Regions from separate parts of the Homo sapiens genome. Here region 1 is linked to region 2. A link means that fine-mapping ties the variant in region 2 to the expression of a gene that starts in the linked region. Tissue or cell type: whole blood. Region 2 holds a variant in brackets; the other region holds the start of a gene. All regions are shown on one strand. Distances are from middle to middle.

Region 1 (8,108 bases), 190 kb before region 2:
CACTCTCCTAGTTTCTTCCTAGTTCACTCCATCCAGGGTACTTTTTATAAAACCCAAGTTTGTTCGTGTCACTCCTCTACTTAATAATGTAAGCTGGGTCCCTGGTGCCTACAAAACTGAGTCCAAACTCCTTAAAAGCATGACTTACCAAGTGCTTAGCAATCCAGTAAATCTTTACTGACCACTCCCCTTCCTCGTTTCCAAACTACAGACTAAGTTAGTAATTTTTCTAAACCCCCATAAAGCCTTGTACATATCTCCACTGATTCTTTTAGTCTTTGATATATATCATCTATGCATGATTTATACCTGATTTTACCAGAATCACTTCCTGCCACTTTGCCCCACCCCATCCCTCTCTTCTCCAGCATCACTGAGCTTCTGATTATTCCTCACCAGCAATGCATGTCCTTTCACAAGCCTGGGCCTCAGCCCATGTTGTTTACTCTTCCTGGACTGTCCACCCTCTCTTCTTCATCTAGCAAATTCTTATGCATTAGTTAAGCTCATAAACCTGTCACCTCCCTGCTGATGACTTCCTTGAGCCAATCAGAAGAGTTAGTCATTTCTTCTGTGTTCCCGTAGCCCTTTGCCCATTCCTCCAGCAGTCACCACTGTTCACACTTTTGGCTGCCTTGCCTATTTTGAATACCTCCATTATGTTTGGCAAATTTTAGCCACATGAATTCCATTTCTCTGAGGTAGAAGCCCCAGATCCCAAATTTCCCTTGTAGCTAGGAAACAGTTAAATAACTTAGGCTCTTCTAATCAGATGTACCTGCAGGGAACTTTTTTGCTTGAAGTGAGCAATACATGCGCTGGTAATGGGTGTGAGGCAGGAAATTAATCTTCTGGTAAGATGGGTGTGAAGAGGCCTTTGATCCTTGGGGTGGCCAGTGGCAGAGTGGCTGTCATGTAGCCCATAGTGCTGAGAGATGGTAAGAGTGGTGTTTGTCAAAACAGCTACCTGGAGTGGTTGAGGATGCTTGGGCTTCAGTCTTGCTGTTTGGCTCTGTCGAATATTCTATGGGCCACCTAAAATCCCGTGGTAGGTTAATTTACTGCCTAAATAAGTCTGAGTGGATTCGTTCTTGCAGTGACTGAAAAACAACAACTGACCCACATTGGTTAGGACACTTACCAAGTTTCACTATTCATGTTTTCTTAAGTATCTGTCTCTCCCACTACATTACTCTCAGGTACTGTGTCTTATCCTTCTATGCAGAGTTCTACTTTCTTAACTCTTATAACAAATACATGTTGAGTGCCTACACTGCGCCATACGCTGTGCTAGTCATTGAGGACATAATTGAGAAAAAGAGACTTGTAAGATTTTTTCTTATGAAGTGTACAATTTAAAAAATCTGTCTGAGACCAGGCATGGTGGCTCATGCCTGTAATCCCAGCACTTTGGGAGGCTGAGGCAGGAGGATCACTTGAGCTCAGGAGTTCAAGATCAGCCTGGGCAACATAGAGAGACCCCATCTCTTAAAAAAAAAAAGAGAAAAAAAGACCTGTCTGAAACATCCTAGGTGTCCAACTGAGTGAGTACACCAATTCATTTGATTACTTACTTTACTTACTGGACATTTGCGTCTGGAAAATATAAGAATAAATGAGAAATGTTCTTAAGTTTCTCTGAGGCTAATAGGAGATATAGAAATGTAAACCAGTTTGATGCAACCTGAAAGGTGTGATAACAAAAATATGTTTCTGATTCACTGGTGGCACAAAGGAGGGGTGGAGTGAAAAATTCTGCTTGGAAAAGCCAGGAATGAAAGACTAAGTTACTGAACGTAGAAATATTTTTGAGTGTGCATAAAGATTTCTTCTTGTCCCTTTTCCCCCTTTTCTTCTCTTTTCCCTTCTTCCCTTTCCCTTTTCTTTGCCTTTTCTTACTGTTCCCTTTGCCCTTTAAGGTTCAATCCAAGGGCCATCTTCATAGTAAATCTTTACTGACCACTCCCCTTCCTCCCTTCCAAACTACCACGCTAAGTTAGTAACTTTTCTAAACTCCCCTAATACCTTGTACATACCACCACTGATTCTTTTAGCCTTTGATGTGTGTTTGTGTACATATATATGTATATCACATGATATATATATCAGATGATTTTATATATATATATATATATATATATATATATATATATATATATATATGATATAATCTATGCATCTGTCATTGCCTCCTCCCCCAAGTCAGGGCCTGGCACATAATTAGTACAGTACTCAATAAGTTCAATAACTGTTTCTTGAGGAAATATAAATTAAAACTGCAATGTGATACCACCACATCCCCATCAGAATGGCCACAATGAAAAGGATTGTTAATATCAAGTGTTGATGAAGATATTGAAAAACTGGAAATTTCAAACATGCTAGAAAGAATATAAATGGGAAACTTTTTTGGCAGAATTCACTAAAGCTGAACATATGCATATTGTATTACCCAACGATTGAACTTCCGGGTATAAGTATCCAACAGAAATGAATGTGTACATCTCAGAAGGTTCATATCAATTTTATTCATAATAGCCCCAAACTGGAAACAACCTAATGTCCATCCACAATAATGGATAAATGAATTGTGGCATATTCATATCATGGAACAGTATACAATAATTTTTTTAAATGAAAAACTGCTATGGGTCAGGTGCAGGGGCTCACCCCTGTAATCTCAACACTTTGGTGGGAGGCTGAGGCGGACAAGTCACTTGAGCTCAGGAGTTCGAGACCAGCCTAGGCAACATGGAAAAACCCAGTCTCTACAAATGTACCCCCTCCAAAAAAAAAAAAAAAGCCCGGTCCTGTGGTGTGTGCCTGTAGTCCTGGCTGCTCAGGAGGCTGAGGTGGGACGATCACTTGTGCTCAGGTGGTCAAGGCTGCAGTGAGTGCAGTGAGAGGTGATGGTAACAGTGTACTCCTACCTGAGTGACAGAGTGAGACCCTGTCTCAAACAAAACAAGACAAAAAACTGCTACAATATAAGCAACAATATAGATGATTTTCACCGACTAATATTGAGCAAAGCAAACCAGAAACAGAGTACATATTGTGATTTTCCACTAAAATGAAATTCCAGAAAAGGTCAAATTAATCTCCAGCAAAAGAGGATGAAATAATGGTTAACTTTTACAGGTGGGAGGGGTAATGTACTGGAAGAGGACAGTAGGGAGATTTTTAAAGTTTTGAAAGTATTCTATATTTTTATAATCATATATATTTACCTATTATTATTATTTGAGACATAGTCTCATCCTGTTGCTCAGGCTGGAGTGCAGTGGCGCCATCTCGGCTCACTGCAACCTCTGCCTCCTGGGTTCAAGCGATTCTCATGTCTCGGCCTCCCGAGTACCTGGGATTACAGGCGCACCTCCACCACCACGCCCAGCTAATTTTTTTTTTGTATTTTTAGTAGAGAAGGGGTTTCACCATGTTGGCCAGGCTGGTCTCAAACTCCTGACTTCAAGTGATCTGCCTGCCTCGGCTTCCCAAAGTGCTGGGATTACAGGCGTGAGCCACCGCTCCTGGCCTATAATCATACATTTAAAAGCCACATACGGAAGAATTTTCTAGGACAATGTCAACTCTCCATTAAAAAACTTTTCACACCCCAACCACATAAATATGTAAAAATTTGAGTTTTACCCTTATGATTTGTGCATTTTACTGTCTATAAATTACATCTTGATAAAAATGTAAATAAAAACAAATAAAAATGAATGTTCCTTGAATGAGTGAATAAACGAATGAATGAGTTGTGTTTTCAAAGAGGAAAATAAAGACATTACCGTGAAAGAGGATCTTGTACTGCATTGAATTTTTAAGTAGTGCTTAGTTCTTGCACTTTCTTTGCTCTAATGATGCCCAAAATAATTGTTCGTTTACTTACTTTGCTTAAGTATTAATTTCCTTTGCTATTTAGCCACGACTGTGAAGTTAAGACAAGAAAGTCATCAACAGTAATGCAGATGATGTAAATACCTTGTGGGACTGGCATTTAATTTACTGCGAGGGATCTATTAAGCTCTTGGGGAATTGGGGAATATGCCTAATTCCCTTCTGGCGTTTTTAATTTTTTTAATCCTTTTGTGTTTTATGAGATGTGAGTACAAATTAATTATTCAGACTCTTGAGAGAGGAGACGAGTTGGCGGAGTTGCCACCCGTGTTCACGAACAGGAACAGAAGCCACCAGCACATGACATTGCCCAAGCCACCCAGAGATCAGAGTGGAAGAGTCCTAATTGCTGGGCGGCCCAGCCCCGGGATGTGCCTCTCCCATCCTTCTCCAGGCGGGGCTCGTGGCTAAGCAGCGACTCACCCTGCCAGCCTGTCACAGGCCAAGAGCGGCCAACAACTCCGCAGGCGACAATGGCCGCTGCACCCCAGGCGCTGTGGAAGCCCGACCCGGCTCTGGGTCCCATCTTAGAGCCTGGGATGCAGTGTCGGGAGTCGCGGTGCCCAGAGCATCCAGTAGGTGTCGCTGTCCCACGGCCGCCGCGCGCCCCCGGGGTGGGGAGCCGGGGCGTGTCTGCCTCACCTGGGGCTCCCGGCGCGAGCGCCTCACCTGGGCTAGCGCCCCTTGCCGCCCGCGCCGCGCGGGGGCGCTCTTCCGCGGCTGGGTCCCCGCCTCCGCCCCAACAGCTCGGGCTGCAGTGCTGCTCGCGCTGCGCTGGGTGCTGGTTCTGCAACCCGCGGCCGTCCCCCCGCATCCGCGACGAGGGGGCGGGGTCCCACGGCGCGCTGAGAAAGGCGGGCGAGCTGGCGCTCAGGTGTGTTCTTCCATAGGGCCCGGGCGGCAGAGAGGACCGCGTCCCGGCAGTCGGAGCGGGAGGAGGACAAGACGATGCCGCTGTCCCCGCCAGCCCAGGGCGACCCCGGGGAGCCCAGCCCGTGCAGGCCCCCTAAGAAGCACACCACCTTCCACCTCTGGCGCTCCAAAAAGAAGCAGCAGCCGGCGCCGCCTGACTGTGGGGTGTTCGTTCCGCACCCGCTCCCGGCGCCTGCCGGAGAGGCCAGGTGAGCTCCTCGCCCGAGCCCTCCAGTCCCACCTCCTCCTCCTCCTCCTTCTCCTGCTGCGCTAGCCCTTGGACTCCTGACCCCACTTGGAGGAGGGGAAAGCCCCGGGGTCTGTTTCAGTCCGCAGGAGGGTACCCGGGTCCGGAGGGGAGCGATCGTAGCCGCTGGGGTTGACGAGGTTCCTCGCGGCTTTTGGTTCAGACCAAGCACCGGCGAGAGGAACTTGTGCCCACGCATGTGGCCTTTAGTATGACTGCAAAGTTTTCATGCAGGAGCCTCCCGCATCAGCCTGCTAACCAGAGCGGCGGGGAGTGAGGGTTGTTACCGTCCTAAATGATGGCGGGAACTCTGCTTTGGGGTTAGGCACTGCTTTTGAGCTAGTGTCTTTATTGTAAAGCTCTTTATTGTGAATATCTGTAAGATCTGTGCTCTTACAGATGTTATACCCCCATTCTCCTCGCAACATACGAAGGGAGGAGGAAGTGGCAGGAATGGTTACCCCCATTTCATGGGTGGAGGAACTGAGACCAAAGGATAAATGGCTTCTCCCCATTGGAGCCAGTGGCAGAGCTAGAGAGCACCTAGTTATCAAAACTGTAGTTACCATTGTGCTTTTTGATTTTTATCATGGTTTTGAAGTGGTTTTATTCTATATGTATAATTATTCAACTATAGCATCAGAGTTTATGCATTCGTTGAATAATAATCAATTTGAAGTAACAGCGTATTTACATGGCTCAGAGGTGTGAAATATTTATAGTGATGGACAATTGACAATGTCCAGTAAATCCTTCCAAATGTGTTTTTAAAATACACCCTATGAGGGCCAGAATAAAATTGTGCAAAATTTGCATTTTAGACATGGTTTTCCTTTTATTTCTTTCTTTCTTTTTTTTTTTTTTTTTCTGAGACGGAGTCTTGCTCTGTCACCCAGGCTGGAGTGCACTGGCCCAATCCCGGCTCACTGCAAGCTCCACCTCCCGGGTTCACGCCATTCTCCTGCCTCAGCCCCCGAGTAGCTGGGACCACAGGCGCCCGCCACCACGCCCGGCTAATTTTTTGTATTTTTAGTAGAAACGGGGTTTCACCGTGTTAGACAGGATGGTCTCGATCTCCTGACCTCATGATCCGCCCGCCTCGGCCTCCCAAAGTGCTGGGATTACAGGCATGAGCCACCGCGCCCGGCCTCTCCTTTTATTTGTAAAAAAAGTCAATTTTACGATCTATTTTCATTCACTTATTGTATTGAGTACCTTAGCTAAGTGCCATGTACTGCGATATAAAAAACAATGAGAGACAGGAATAATTGTGTCATCAAAGAATTGTTAGTCTCTTGTGGATACCAAAAAATGCAATGATAGATGCCAGCACACAGGAGGGGATCAGGGAGGCTTCCTGGAGGAGGATAGGTGAAGTGGCTTAGGCAGAAACAGGGAGGAGCAGCGAGTTCCAGGCAGGGGCTGCACTGTGCACATCACCAGCACTTAGAAGAGCGTGGCACTTCCTGAGAAGCGCAAGTGGTTGCAGCGGGGAGGTCTAGGTGTGAGTGGGTAAGGGTAGGAAACCTAAGAAAGAAGTCATTTTATTTTTCTCTCATATTTTATCATCCACATTGGTAATCAGTTGTAGTAGAAATATATTACCTATTCAAACGTTTACTGTGCCTAATTATAGATTATACTTTCTAACAAAATACAGTATTTAATGTACCCAACATTGAAGTTCTTTTCTATTACCTCAGTAAATATTTTAAACATTTCCATCGTGGTTTTCCTTTTAAGATCTAGTCTTATCATTTACTGTCTATCAAAACATAATAATACACAGCTATAGGTAATTTATTCAAATGTAAATACATTTTAGTATAAAATTTAAAATAGGAGGCCGGGCGCGGTGGCTCACGCCTGTAATCCCAGCACTTTGGGAGGCCGAGACGGGCGGATCACGAGGTCAGGAGATCGAGACCATCCTGGCTAACACGGTGAAACCCCGTCTCTACTAAAAATACAAAAATTAGCCGGGCATGGTGGCGCGCGCCTGTAGTCCCAGCTACACGGGAGGCTGAGGCAGGAGAATGGCGTGAACCCGGGAGGCGGAGCTTGCAGTGAGTCGAGATCGCGCCACTGCACTCCAGCCTGGGCGACAGAGCGAAACTCCGTCTCAAAAAAAAAAAAAAAAAAAAAAAATTAAAATAGGAGATTTGCTTCTCTCCTTGAGTTTTTTTATATTTTAGTGCAGTCTTGAAACACTTCATTTTTTCCTTCAGAACCGTGATGAACTTCGTATTAATAAATGTTCTGAAAAACTAAACGTACTAGTCTGTCTTTGGGATGTTTTTCTAGTTAGATCATCTTTATAAATATTTCATTTACTTCTAAGAGAGTGTACTTCTTTCTGGTTTAAAGAGAGTGGCAAAAGCACCCTTAGATTTCAAGCCAGTTTGCCCAGTGTGGCTCTCTTAAGCCTCCTGACCATATCCCTTCATTTCTGTCCAGGACTTGGAAGTGATGGAATTTGGCTGGAATGTGCAGCACTCACTGTGGTTTTTGTCTCTAAATAAGGAGGGGACAGTCAGGTAGCCACCCATATTTGCTTATTTGATTAATATTATGGGTGTTTAGGTCAGAAAAAAATGAATTTATCTACTAGCTTTGTGACCTTGGGCAAGTTATTTCACCTCTTAAAATCTCAATTTCCTCATCTGTAATATGGAGACAATAGGATGCTGACTCTGTAGGGTTGTCATGAATATTAAATGAAAGTTTATGTTATTAAGTGCAAAAACCTTAACACACTTCTGAGCACAAAGTAGAAACTCAGTAAATGCAAAAGCATCCTGGTCATCATCATCATCATCATCATCATCAAAGCAAAGGTCTAATGGAAGAAATGGAAAAGATAGGTTTGGATAGGGGAAAACCAACTCTAGGAAGATCTTTTCCTAGAAAAGTTTACCAGTCCAGCCGGGTGCGGTCACTCACGCCTCTAATCCCAGTACTTTGGGAGGCCAAAGCAGGTGGATCACCTGAGGTCAGGAGTTTGAGACCAGCTTGGCCAACATAGTGAAACCTCATCTTTACTAAA
Region 2 (8,108 bases):
CAAGACCAGCCTGACCAACATGGGGAAACCCCATGTCTACTAAAAAATACAAAATTAGCTGAGCGTGGTGTCACATGCCTGTGATCCCAGCTACTTGGGAGGCTGAGGCAGGAGAATCGCTTGAACTCAGGAGGCAAAGGCTGCGGTGAGCCAAGATCGCACCATTGCACTCCAGCCTGGGCAACAAGAGCGAAACTCTGTCAAGGAAGGCTGATACATTGGCCTGTTCAAGTTGATCAAATCTACAACCTTGCTTATTAGAATTATGCTCCAAGCTATTGAACAGTTTGATAGTTCGCTTTCTGATTTTTATATTTTTGCATCTTATAGATCTTGCACATTTCCCATAGAAGTGCACACTAAAGTTGCTCTTGTAAATCGCTAACTATTCATAATATTTTTGTTACTATCTGAAGTGAGTTTATCCAGTTTTGCTTGCTGAGGTTCTTTTGAGTCAGCCCTGATTAAACACACACACATACACACCACTCACACACACGCTCCCCTTCCCTTTTTTATACAACTCTGATATATGTCTCTTAGGTTATTTTCTTGGGGCCATTCTGTTATTCTCCTAAATTTTAAAGAATTCCAATGATAATAAAGCAGAAGGTCATGTCTAGCTTTATAACTATTTGTATTTTTCAATGAAATTGATATGTACCTTGAAAAAATGTTAACATGTCTGGAAATGACTACTCCTCGTGTTCTTTATGTTGCAGTTGGGTTGCATATGAGAAACCTGGATTTACCGGTCATCAGTATTTGCTAGAAGAAGGAGAATACAGGGACTGGAAAGCCTGGGGAGGTTACAATGGAGAGCTTCAGTCTTTACGACCTATATTAGGTGTAAGTAAAGGACAAGCTAATGGCTAATACTTGGTCTTCTTTGGATAATAAATGGCTAGCCTTTGAATTTTGAATTTTTTTTCTCAATAGGATTTTTCAAATGCTCACATGATAATGTACAGTGAAAAAAACTTTGGATCCAAAGGTTCCAGTATTGATGTATTGGGAATTGTTGCTAATTTAAAGGAGACTGGATATGGAGTGAAGACACAGTCTATTAATGTACTGAGTGGAGTGTAAGTGAAATAATCCAGTTGGAATTTTAAACATGCGTTTTACCTTGGTTTGTTTTAAACTGGTAAGAGTCTATCACAGAGTAGGCATTCAATACACAAATATCTCAACAGCTTAACATTAAATCAGTCATTTAATAGTTGCTGTCATGATATTTTCGTTAACTCTCTTTAAAAATCGTTCTCATACCATCTCTTCTTTTTACGTTTGGGGTAGGCTTTGGGTATCATGATAGAAATCTACAGATCTGTTTCCCTTGTCATTCTGCACAGAAAGATAGTGAATTTTTTAAATGATGGAGATCAAATAATAATAATAGTAATCTAACATAAACCTGAGGCTGGGTCAAAGTCCCAGTAGATTTTCCTGTGGTCCTACACCTGTTCCAGTATATTTCTTCACTATTAGTTTGACATAAAAATAATTGTTCTATGTACGTGGAGTTAGCAGTTGACTGTTTTATTAGTGGTGAAGCAAGTTTTTATTGAAAGATGTTTAGTCAAGATTCTTTGGGATGAAGTGACTGCAAGCCAAGCTAAATTGGCTCAAGGGATTAAAATGGAACTTACTGGCTTAAGTAACTAAAAAGTCCTGGAGAAGATTTTGCTTCAGGCATGCCTAGATGCAGCGGATCAAACACTATCAGAACTTAGTCTCTGTGTCTTGACTGGGCTTTTTTCTGTGTTAACTTGACTTTAGGTAGGCCTTTTGCATTTGGTGGCCTGTGGCCACATTCAGCTTTTGTTCTCCTAACTCTTTTTTTTTGAGGCAGAGTTTCACTCTGCCACCCAGGCTGGAGTGCAGTGGCAAAATCTCAGCTCACTGCAACCTCTGCCTCCTGGGCTTAAGCGATCCTCCTGCTTCAGCCTCCCAAGTAGTTGGGACCACAGATGTGTGCCACCAGGCCTGGCTAATTTTTGTATTTTTTTTTAGAGACAGGTTTTTGCCATGTTGCCCAGGCTGGTCTCAAACTCCTGAGCTCAGGTGATCCACCCGCCTTGGCCTCCCAAAGTGCTGGGATTACAGGCATGAGCCACCATGCCTGGCCCCAGCTCATTTCTTGCAGTGGAAAGAGCTTCTCTTTCTCACAAGTTCCATGTTTGACTTTGCTTTCCTAGGCTTGGGTCATGTGCACATGCCTGAACCAATCACTGTAGCCACAGAGACGGCCATGTCTGGGCTACGTGTCCATCTCCAGAGCTGAGATGTAGGGTCTATCCCATAGGAGCCACTTAGATATGAATGGGGTTGGTGGTTCCCCAGGGACATCAGAAAGAGTGGGGAGATAGATGCCAGATGGGCAAAAACAGCAGATGGCTGTTATAGGGAGTTACATAATTATTCTTGTAATCCAGGCTAATGTCTATTCTAATTTGTTATAAGTGAGAGTATTCTCAAATAGTTACATGAAATAATGTGACATTGGTTATGCTGAAAGTGTTTGGTGTTAGGTTTTTGTTGTCATAGTGACATAGACTATTTGAATCATCCTAGCCTCAACCCCATTGTATCTCATGGGGCCTCCCACAATAGCCCTGGATATTTGAAAAGTGTGTACAATGTACTAAAAGTTGATGAACATGCTTAACTTTTACTCTTAGTAAATAGAGTAAAAAAAACCTTGTTCAACAAGTTCTTGTCTAGGCCGTTGCATGTGGTGCCATTTTGGCAGAGTATCAGTGATTTCCGGGTATTCCATTCTCAGCAGGAAATGCCTACTCTTGGGTCCTATTCTGGAGCCCTAACATTTTAGAATCAGTAGCCTGTTTGCAAAAGCCAGAAGTCATCTGAAATATAAGGTACAAGTTATCTGAAATGTTGCTGGGGCTCTGCAGTATTTTAGATTGTCTTTAAAGCTAATTATTTAGGAGGAAAACATAGTGACCAACTTAGTCTGGTGAAACAGTTGTACATTTTGATACTCACCAGTTGTGTTGGTTCTATTAGTCAGAGCCTAGTCATCCACCCTGGCAGAGGAAGCAAAAGGATGCTGGGTAGAATGAATTCCCTTAGGTATTTTGTAGATGATGCTATTAACACAGGTAGAATTATTGTGCCTTGAGCCAATCTCCTTTCCTTTTTAACCCAGGCCTTGCTTACTTGAAATCAGTTCCCTTTATAAAGTGCTGCTATTATATGTTTCTATTTTTAGTCATTTCTAATTGCATTTCCTGGCTTAAGCTTCTTTTTTCTGGCTGTAGCAGTTAAGTTTTGGTAGAAGGGGGAAGTTGAAGGGAGCTACGTACACATACGTGGACACACACACACACACACACACACACCACTTCCTTTGAAATTCTTTGCATATGGAAGGGCTTTTGTATTTACCAGGGCCAGGTGCTTCCTCATATTTTGTTCGATTTGTCATTTGACAAGTATTTATTGCGGTCTGTTATGTGCAAAGCATTGTATTATGTCCTCAAAGAAGTTACGGTATTTATGTAAAACATAATTATTGCTACAAAAGAGGTACAGATTAAATGCTCTGGGAATCCACAGCAGAGAGAGATTAATTTCCAGTCTGGACACAGGGAAGGAAGACTTTGTGGAGGAGGTGGCATTGGAGTTAGGCCTGTGGGATAGGATAGGAAGGCTGAGATGAGCCAAGATGATGGAGGAGGACTACCTATTCACTTTAAATAGTTTCAAAGGAAAATTATTGTATTTTAATGGCTTTATTTTTATTGGCAATTAAGTATTTTAGCTTGGTTCTTTATTTCTTATTATGGCATGCATTGTCAGAAAAAAACTCTTCTGAAGTTCTTGTTCCATGAAAGTATCTCCCAGGAGGCTCACCATCACATGGGTAATACATCCCCTGGGCAGTAAACTCATCATTAGTCCTGAAACAGAGAACAGCCTTCAGGAAGGATGCCCATGAAACCAGCAACTGAGGTTTTTAGGAACTGCATTTGATTCTTACTGGAAATGTCGAAAGAAACTCCCTGCTTATCAGTTTCTAGTTCTATGCTATATTCTTGCTCAAATAGTGGAAACTGGGCTAGTTTTTTAAAACTAGGAGCAAAATGAAATATTTCTGGTATTCAGATGAAAACGAAAAGTGTTGTTGTTTTAAATTCTTTTTCCTTTGGCCTTCCACGGAAGGGCAGGTTTACCCTGCTGCCCTTATCTTCTGAGCAATTATTCCACCAGGCTGGGACCTGCTAGTACTTGTGTACATGCCTTTCCCCCGTCTCCCCACCAGTCTTTAAACAGAGGAGTGTTGATTCATGTGTACAGAATACATCTGGACAAGGACAGGGAGGGATTTTCTTAAGAGCCCCAAGTGTAAGTTGTAAGTAGACTCTCGGATCATAGAGCAGAGAATCTCAGATCTGGGTTTTGCGGCTTCTCCCCTCCCCCACTCCCCCCATTCATGGGTGATTCATCAGGTATCTTGGAGGGAAAACAACACTACTGTCAGTTCAAGTAACATCTTAATAAATTGTTTTCCAGCTTCAGCTTCAGTGAATTAGAGATAGGCTTAGCTGGGTGTTGGGTATTTACTTACAAGTAGTTTAGTTTCATAGGAAAATACAGTACCCATACTTGTTAGTAAAAAGAA[C/T]AGAGTACTGGCTAAAGCTGCTTCCAGGGCTGTCCTCTCTCCTTGGCATTCAGCCTCCCACCTCACTGTCTTTTTTCCCTCCAAACCTTGAAGTCAAACAGAAAGGCCTTTAACCCTCTTATCTCTCTACTTGTTACAGACTCGGAGCCCTGGTGAGAACCCTTTTTTTGATGTGGCTCTACTTCTTTAATTGTTCGTTGTTTTTTTAAAGTCCTAGTGTTTGTAACGTAGATTTTCTTTTTTTTTAAATTTTATTATTATTATACTTTAAGTTTTAGGGTACATGTGCACAACGTGCAGGTTAGTTACATATGTATACATGTGCCATGTTGGTGTGCTGCACCCATTAACTCGTCATCTAGCATTAGGTATATCTCCTAATGCTATCCCTCCCCCCTCCCCCCACCCCACAACAGTCCCCGGTGTGTGATGTTCCCCTTCCTGTGTCCATGTGTTCTCATTGTTCAATTCCCACCTATGAGTGAGAACATGCGGTGTTTGGTTTTTTGTCCTTGCGATCGTTTGCTGAGAATGATGGTTTCCAGTTTCATCCATGTCCCTACAAAGGACATGAACTCATCATTTTTTATGGCTGCATAGTATTCCATGGTGTATATGTGCCACATTTTCTTAATCCAGTCATGTAGATTTTCTTGATGTGCAGACACTCCTCCCACATAGCAGTGCTCCCTGCTCTGGCTTTACTGTTGCTTCCTTTCATGCTGGGGGTAAAGCCTGAGGCCCTGTGGGCAGAGGCAGCACATGCGGGTACCCGTGTGCTGTACAGCATCACCTGGTCAGCCCGGGGACCTTGGCCCACTCTCCTACTTACACTTGAAAATACAAACTTTCACAAAGGTTAAGTGAGTTCTTCAAAGTTATCTGAAAGTTAATGTCATGGCCACAGGTGGAGCCAGGTCTCCTATCTCCTCACCTCTCAGTGATAAAGGATAGGTTTTTAGGCCGGGAACAGTGCTCACGCCTGTAATCCTAGCACTTTAGGAGGCTGAGGTGGGTGGATCACTTGAAGTCAGGAGTTTGAGACCAGCCTGGCCAACATGGTAAAATCCTGACTCTACTAAAAAAAATAAAAAATAAATAAAAATAAAAAAGAACAGGTTTTAAAAATTGCTAGTGAGGTTCTGAAATCGGGGGATGGGGGGTGGTAGGGGGCTGTATTTCCTGAAAGACTGAGTGGTGCATATAGCAGCTTCTCCATTTGGATGGCTGGGAGTGAGTGCACAGATGTTGGCTGTTATTAGCTACTTCTCACTGGAGATTTTGGCAGTGTTCTTTTTTTCCTTGATGGCTGTTCATATTCTAGTAATTACTGTACTTGAGTTTTTGTTTAAATCAGCCCTTTGGATAGTAAAATCATAATCTGCTCTAATTATAAAGTGTGTGGACTGTTTTAGGCATGGTTTACTAGAACAGTAAATGAAAGGGAACTTTCCAGGGCACATGGCAGGTTGGGTCACAAAGCAAGGAGAGCCTGGTGGGCCTCAGGACAGGTAGGTTCAGTCACGTTCTGGCCAATAGTCGATTGTGTCACCCTGGACAAGTCATTTCCCATTCAAAACAAATACCAACAAATACTTCCATGTGATGCTGCTTACCCATCTGTGGGCTTTGGAGGACAGAGATTTTGTCTTTTTCATCTTTGTATATCTAGTGCCAGTCTAGTTCCTGGCACCTGGTAAATGAATTAACTTACTGTGTCTTAGGTTTTTCCCATCTGTAAAATGGGAACACCAATACCTCCCTAGGAGATTAAATGTGATAACAGATGTGGAAACATTTTGCAAAGTTCTGATCACCCTACATAATACATACATAGATATTATTCCTTTAAGCTTTGAGAGGATCATGAGAATGATGAATTAATTGAAAAGATACTTAATGTCTTCAATATAATGGTATTAAGTATCTCTTTAATATAACAGAACTGAAAAACCTTTTCCTTTCAAAGACTTTATCTTTGCATAGGAAATAGCATCATTAAATTGGTTTTGTTGATTTTCCTCTGGGTGTAGATCACTTAAAAGAGAAAAAAACATTCCAAAAGAGATTTATTTTTAGTATTTCTATGAGTTTGCTCAATTTTGTTTATTTAATTTTTACATATTTATGTGATGTTGGAAACACTGTTGGAAACAATATTTTAGTTCTGTTCTGCATTTTTAAAAGCATTTCTTCTGTTAACTTCTTTTTCAGTGTGGTTTGTTGTGTAATAGACACAGCTTCCTAAGATCTTTCTGCAAAAATATTTTAAGGTTGAGAATGAAAGGACTTATTGATTGCTTATTAAAAGAACTAGGTTCTTCTTGAAAGTCCTGTTTGTTTTGTTTCCTTAGAATACAATTAGAAAAAAAAAAGCACAGAGAAGTATTGCCTTTGTAGCTTTCTCAAGAAATAGTATTTGATAAGCGAGAACGCCAAAAAGTTCATGTCAAGATACCCTTACGCTTACCATTTCTTTTGCATTAAGTTTTTTTTCAACTCTTATTTTAGATTCAGGGGGTACATGTGCAGGTTTGTTACATGGGTATATTGCATGATTTCCTGAAGTTTGGGGTACGGTTGAACCCGTCAACCTGAGCATAGCATGCAACAGGTAGTTTTTCAAACCCCCCTCCCTCCTGGCCCCTTTTGTAGTCCCCAGGGCCTATTTTTTTTTCTTCTTTATGTCCATGCATGACCAATGTTTAGCTCCCACTTATGGGCAAGAACATGCTCATAAGTATATGTTCTTGCTCATAAATATTTGGTATTTGATTTTCTGTTTGTGTTAATTCGCTTAGGATAGTGACCTCCAGTTGCATCCAAGTTGCTGCAAAGGACTTGATTTCATTCTTTTTTATGGCTGTATAGTATTCCATGGTTTATATGTACCACATTTTCTCTATCCAATCCACCATTGATCAATGAACACCTAGGTTGATTCCACATCTTGATATTGTGAATAGTGTGGCAGTAAACAAGACACGTGCAAGTATCTTTTTGGTAGAATAATTCGTTTTCCCCTGGGTATATCCCAGTAATGGGATTGCTGGGTTGAATACTAGTTCTATCTTTAGTTCTTTGAGAAATCTTCAAACTGCTTTCCACAGCAGCTAAACTAATTTACATTCCCACCAGCAGTGTATAAATGTTCCCTCTTCTCTGCTGGCTTACCATTCTGATTTGTCCTATAGACAAACCCATCTGCTTCTAAAGGTTAATGGAGAATCAGAAAAATTAAAATTTCAATTGGCAAAACAAATGAAAGTTTCTGTATGATACATAGATATCCAAATATGTGATCGTTTTATATGTAAAATATGAACTCCAACAAGTGATTGCTTTTGTTTCTTAGATGGGTAGCCTATGAAAATCCTGACTTCACAGGAGAACAGTATATACTGGATAAAGGATTTTATACCAGTTTTGAGGACTGGGGAGGCAAAAATTGTAAGATCTC

What was found. PIP is the estimated chance that this variant, and not a neighbour inherited with it, causes the effect.
Region 1: CRYBG1 starts here. The variant in region 2 is fine-mapped to the expression of CRYBG1 in whole blood (TOPMed, PIP 0.96).

Annotation. Positions count from the first base shown.
Region 1 is chr6:106,356,058-106,364,165 of GRCh38, forward strand. CRYBG1 (crystallin beta-gamma domain containing 1) reads left to right here and starts at 4,660. Exons shown (of 22, transcript NM_001371242.2): 1 at 4,660-5,024. The coding sequence starts at 4,852. RefSeq lists silencers at 4,461-4,670, 4,691-4,770 and an enhancer at 4,666-5,532.
Region 2 is chr6:106,543,849-106,551,956 of GRCh38, forward strand. It overlaps CRYBG1 (crystallin beta-gamma domain containing 1), which reads left to right. Exons shown (of 22, transcript NM_001371242.2): 12 at 723-849; 13 at 940-1,085; 14 at 8,004-8,108. Among named protein-coding and RNA genes, the nearest start is that of RTN4IP1, 82 kb to the right of the region's middle. The variant C/T (reference allele first, on the strand shown) is at 4,649.